2 separate regions of the Homo sapiens genome follow, and region 2 is linked to region 1. The links come from fine-mapping of genetic effects on gene expression. Tissue or cell type: whole blood. Region 1 holds a variant in brackets; the other region holds the start of a gene. All regions are shown on one strand. Distances are between the middles of the regions. Region 1 has its middle 15 kb from the start of MDS2. Region 2 holds the start of MDS2 (myelodysplastic syndrome 2 translocation associated).

What was found. PIP is the estimated chance that this variant, and not a neighbour inherited with it, causes the effect. A credible set is the group of variants that fine-mapping cannot tell apart.
Region 2: it holds the start of MDS2, and the variant in region 1 is the best candidate, but not a certain one, in a credible set for the expression of MDS2 in whole blood (TOPMed, PIP 0.67).

The regions. Positions count from the first base shown.
Region 1 is chr1:23,640,663-23,643,579 of GRCh38, reverse strand. No RefSeq gene overlaps it. Among named protein-coding and RNA genes, the nearest start is that of MDS2, 15 kb to the right of the region's middle. The variant TA/A (reference allele first, on the strand shown) is at 1,193.
Region 2 is chr1:23,625,617-23,628,533 of GRCh38, reverse strand. MDS2 (myelodysplastic syndrome 2 translocation associated) reads right to left here and starts at 1,200. Exons shown (of 6, transcript NR_167910.1): 1 at 997-1,200; 2 at 536-753; 3 at 1-27. RefSeq lists an enhancer at 2,627-2,746.

The sequences.
Region 1 (2,917 bases):
CCAACTGGATCTGTCCCATCCAAACTGGGACACATGATCCCCTACTTTTCTGTAAAATGGGATTAAATAGAACCATGCAGAGAATACAGGGGGGCCAAAGTAAGTGCTCAGTGAGCAGCACCTTCATTATTTCTTTTTATTTTTTTATTTTTATTTTTATTTTTTTGAGATGGAGTCTCACTCTGTTGCCCAGGCTAGAGTGCAGTGGCATGATCTCGGCTCACTGCAACCTCCGCCTCCCCGGTTCAAGTAATTCTCATGTCTCAGACTCCTGAGTAGCTGGGACTACAGGTACGTGCCACCACGCCCAGCTAATTTTTTGTGTTTTTTGTAGAGACGGGGTTCCACCATGTTGCCCAGGCTGATCTCGAACTCCTGACCTCAGGTGATCTGCCAGCCTTGGCCTCCCAAAGTGCTGGGATTACAGGCATAAGCCACCACGCCCGGCCTTTTTTTTTTTTTTTTGAGATAGTCTTGCTCTGTCACCCACACTGGAGTGCAGTGGCATGATCTCTGCTCACTGCAACCTCAGCTTCCCAGGTTCAAGACATTCTCTTGCCTCAGCCTCCTAAGTAGCTGGAAACAGGCACCTGCCATGACATCAGGCTAATTTCTGTGTTTTTAATAGAGATGAGGTTTCACCATGTTGGCCAGGCTGGTCTTGAACTCCTGACCTCAAGTGATCCACCTGCCTCGGCCTCTCAAAGTGCTGGGATTACAGGCATGAGCCACCGTGCCTGGCCATCTTATCATTATTTATTTATTTATTAGACAGAGTTTTGCTCATTGCACAGGCTGGAGTGCAATGGCATGATCTCGGCTCACTGCAACCTCTGCCTCGCAGGTTCAAGTGATTCTCCTGCATCAGCCTCCCAAGTAGCTGGGATTACAGGCATGTGCCACCATGCCTGGCTAATTTTTGTATTTTTAGTAGAGATAGGGCTTCACCATGTTGGCCAGGCTGGTCTTGAACTCCTGACCTCAAGTGATCCACCTGCCTTAGCCTCCCAAAGTCCTGGGATTACAGGCATGGCCATCACGCCCAGCCATCCTATCATTATTTCTATACTCTGCAGTCACTCTCAATTGATGTCTAAATGTCATTCACTTGTCAATCAATTACTCACTACCCACCATGTGTCAGGTACACAGCATTGGTTCTCCTGATGTGAAGATGTACTGATAATTCATC[TA/A]TTCAGCCCACATTTTGTGAGCAGCTCCTATCTGCCAGGCTAGGTTCTGAGGCTAGGCTCGTTCTGGGGATCCAAAGATGAGTGACACCACTTGTCCTCCTGGGGCTTGCAATCTTGTAGGGTACGGTGGGTGAAAGCGTGTCTCCCAAAAATGCATGTCCACCTAGAACTTCAGAATATGACCTTACTTGAAAACAGGGTTGGCCGGACGTGGTGGCTCACGCCTGTAATCCCAGCACTTTGGGAGGCCGAGGTGGGTGGATCACGAGGTCAGGAGATCGAGACCATCCTGGCCAACACGGTGAAACCCCGTCTCTACTAAAAATACAAAAAAATTAGCCAGGCGTGGTGGCGGGCGCCTGTAGTCCCAGCTACTTGGGAGGCTGAGGCAGGAGAATGGCCTGAACCCGGGAGGCAGAGCTTGCAGTGAGCCGAGATAGTGCCACTGCACTCCAGCCTGGGCGACAGAGTGAGACTCCATCTCAAAAAAAAAAAAAAGAAAAGAAAAAAAAAGAAAAAGAAAACAGGGTCTTTGCAGGTGTAATTAAGATAAGTATCAAAATAAAATCATGCTGGATTAGGGTGGGCCTGAAATCCAATGAGAGTGTCTTGATAAGAGACAGAAGAGTGCACAGAGACACAGACGAAAAGGCCTTGTGAAGACAGAAGCAGAGACTGGAGGGCAGGGGCACTCCACAAAATGCCAAGGATTTTGCCAGCAGCCACCAAAAGTTAGGAGAAAGGCATGGAATGGATCTTCCCTTAGACCCTCCATCACCCAGGCTGGAGTACAGTGGCGTGATCTCAGCGCATTGCAACCTCCACCTCCCGGACTCAAGCAATCCTCCTGCCTCAGCCCCCCAAGTAGTTGGGACTACAGGCTGGCTATTTTTTGTATTTTTTCGTAGAGATGGTGTTTCACCATGTTGCCCAGGCTGGTCTCAAACTCCTGGGCTCAAGCAATCCTCCCACCTCAGCCTCCCAAAGTGCTGGGATTATAGGTATAAGCCACCGCGCCCAGCCCACCTTGATTTCAGACTTCTGGAAGAACCATGAGAATAAGTTTCTGTTGCTTTCAGCTACCAAGGCTGTAGTAATTTGTTACAGCAGCCCTAAGAAAATAATCCATAGAGGACACACATGACACCCACATTGATAACTAAATGAATAATTATATGATAGCTACCTCCAGGGAGAGGTAGCGATGAGGAGGCGTCACAAGGAGGCTTCTGGGGAGCTGGTTATGTTCACTTCTTGACCTAGAGGCAGGTTATGCAGATGGGTTCATTTTGTGAAGGTATATTGAGCTGTACACAGGATTTGTGTGTTTTTGTGTTTGTTATACTTCAGGAAAAACTTAAAAAGATAAATTGCACAGGCCAGGTGCGGTGGCTCATGCCTGTAATCCCAGGACTTTGGGAGGCCAAGGCAGCTGGATCACTTGAGGTTAGGAGTTTGAGAGCAACCTGGCCAACATGGTGAAACCCCGTCTCTAATAAAAATACAAAAATTAGCCAGGCGTGGTGGTACACACCTATAATCCCAGCTACTCAGAGGCTGAGACAGGAGAATTGCTTGAACTCAGGAGGCGAAAGTTGCAGTGAGCCGAGATCATGCCACTGCACTCCAGCCTGGGTGACTGAGTGAGACTCCATCCCCCAAAAATAATAAAACAAAATAAAATTTAAAAAGATAAATTGCATAGGTAGATGTATAACTATAGA
Region 2 (2,917 bases), 15 kb after region 1:
CCTGGCTAACACGGTGAAATCCCGTCTCTGTTAAAAATAAAAATAAAAAAAATTAGCCAGGCGTGGTGGTGGGCGCCTGTAGTCCCAGCTACTCGGGAGGCTGAGGCAGGAGAATGGTGTGAACCCAGGAGGCGGAGCTTGGAGCGAGCTGCCCTCCAGCCTGGGCAACAGAGCGAGACTCCGTCTAAAAAAAAAAAATTGGCCGGGCGCGGTGGCTCACGCCTGTAATCCAGCACTTTGGGAGGCCGAGGTGGGCGGATCACGAGGTCAGGAGATCGAGACCATCCTGGCTAACACGGTGAAACCCCGTCTCTACTAAAAATACAAAAAATTAGCCGGGCGAGGTGGCGGGCGCCTGTATTCCCAGCTACGCGGGAGGCTGAGGCAAGAGAATGTCGTGAACCCGGGAGGCGGAGCTTGCAGTGAGAGGAGATGGCGCCACGGCACTCCAGCCTGGGCGACAGCAAGACTCCGTCTCAAAAAAAAAAAAAAAAAAAAAGAAAGAAAGCAGGGAACGTCACTGAGAGGCTCTTACACAACTCCAGGCAAGAAACAGTGGTGCCTCGGACACAGGTAGTAACGGTGGAGACGGTGAGATTGCGGAAGCTTTGGAAGGTGGAGCTCATGCTATTCCTGATGGGTCAGTTTGGGGTGTAGAGATGGGACAGTTGAGTTTGTCAGCGGGAGGTCATCGATGACCTTGACAAGAGCAGTTTCAGTGGAGCGATGGGGGTGAAAGCCCCACAGAGAGAGCTGGAGAGAGAAAAGGAAGGAGGGATGAAGATGGTCAATTCAGAAAACACTGAGATGTTTTCCTGGAAGGGGGAGCAAAGAAATATGACGGTGTGGGTGTGGGGGTGTGTGTGCATGGGCTTGTGCATGTGTGTGTGTGTGTGTACAATTGGAAGAACTGCAGCCGATTGTGTGGTGATGTGAATGAGCCAGCAGAAGAGGGGGACCCCTGGAGCTGTGGGAGAGACGCAAGGAATTGCTCACTGTTGTCCTGGAGGAGGTGAGAGAGGATGAAGGGCAGTGTCCCAGTGGAGGGCGTAGAATTCAAGTTCCACAAGGCGTCCAGGTAACAGGCACGGATACAGGCGGGAGTGAAGGGAGAGGTGGAGTCTGAGGAAGTTTCCTTCTGATTGCTTCTGTTTCCCAGTGAAACAGAAAGCAAGGTCTCCAGCAGCTGACAGCTAGTACAGCAGGTTCTTTTTTTCTCAGGTGTTATAGATAGCTGCGCCTTCCGCTCACCACAGGTGAAATGGTTGGCTTGTATCTGGGGCCACACCACATAAAAACCATTTGAACAGCAGGATCACACTCAGCATGATGAGAGCCCACATGAGGCTGGAAGTGCAGGAACTTGGACCGGCGGGGGGAACCTGGCAGGTCACATTCCCTCTCAAGGGGTGAGTGCTCACCAAGTGGAATTGGAGTGTGACTCTGTAGCAGTGATTCATGCACAACGTGCTCTCTCTCTCTCTCCCCTCCCTTTACACGCGTGTTTAAATGTGTGTAAATTAGGCTGGGTGCAGTGGCTCACGCCCGTAATCCCAGCACTTTGGGAGGCCAAGGTGGGCAGATCACTTGAGGCCGGGAGTTCGAGACCAGCCTGGGCAACCTGGTGAAACACCGTCTCTGTGAAAAATACAAAAATTAGCCGGGCGTGGTGGTGCACATCTATAACCGCAGCTACTTGGGAGGCTGAGGCATGAGAATCACTTGAGCCCAGGAGGTGGAGGTTGCAGTGAGCCGAGATCACGCCATTGCACCCCAGCCTGGGTGACAGAGCAAGACCCTGTCTCAAAGAGAAAAAAAAAATGTGTGTAAGTTAAATGCACCATGATGAAGACTCCACTATAAATGGTGCCGCTGGAACCTCGGGCCTCCTGACTCCACATCAGTTTTGTCTCTACTATAATACTCCATCTCTCATCACACATCACTAGGGAGCACCAAAATTGCAGGGAAGAGGGTAACCCAGGCTGAAAGGAGGAAGAGAGCACTTAAACTAGAAAATTCTAGAACATCAGACCTCGATGGACCTTCACAGATCATTTGGTCCAACACCCTTATTTGACAGACATGGAAAATGTCATTCACTGACTCCCCCAATATCACACAACAGAATCCTCATCATCCCCATCATCATCCCCATCATCATCATCCCCATCATCATCATCACCATCACCATCATCCCCATCATCATCATCCCCATCACCATCATCCCCATCACCATCATCCCCACCATCATCATCCCCATCATCACCATCATCCCCATCATCATCATCCCCATCACCATCATCCCCATCACCATCATCCCCACCATCATCATCCCCATCATCATCATCACCATCATCATCATCCCCATCATCATCACCATCACCACCATCATCATCATCCCCAACATCACCATCATCATCATCCCCATCATCATCACCATCACCATCACCATCATCATCATCCCCATCACCATCATCACCATCACCATCAACATCACCATCATCACCATCACCATCATCCCCATCATCACCATCATCATCACCATCACCATCATCCCTATCATTATCATCCTCCTCCTGATCACCATAATTGTCATCTGCATGGAAGCTAGCCTATATTGATTACTCCCTGCTGCCAAGCTGTGTCCCATTTCATCATCAAAGCCTCTTGAGGTGGCCACTCTCATTATTTTCATTTTACAGGTGGTGAAACATCACAGAGCAGGTAAGGTATAAACTGGGAGACCCTCCTCCCACCCACTCTGTGAAAACCTTTACTAGAGATCTCGCATTGGGCCACTAACCCTAAGATAGGAGGCAGAAGGGGGCTCCCCTTGAAACTCGAAAGAAGTAAATTTAAGACCAGTAAAGGGAAGTTTTGCTTCACACAGAGGGGGTACTGGCTAAAAATACTA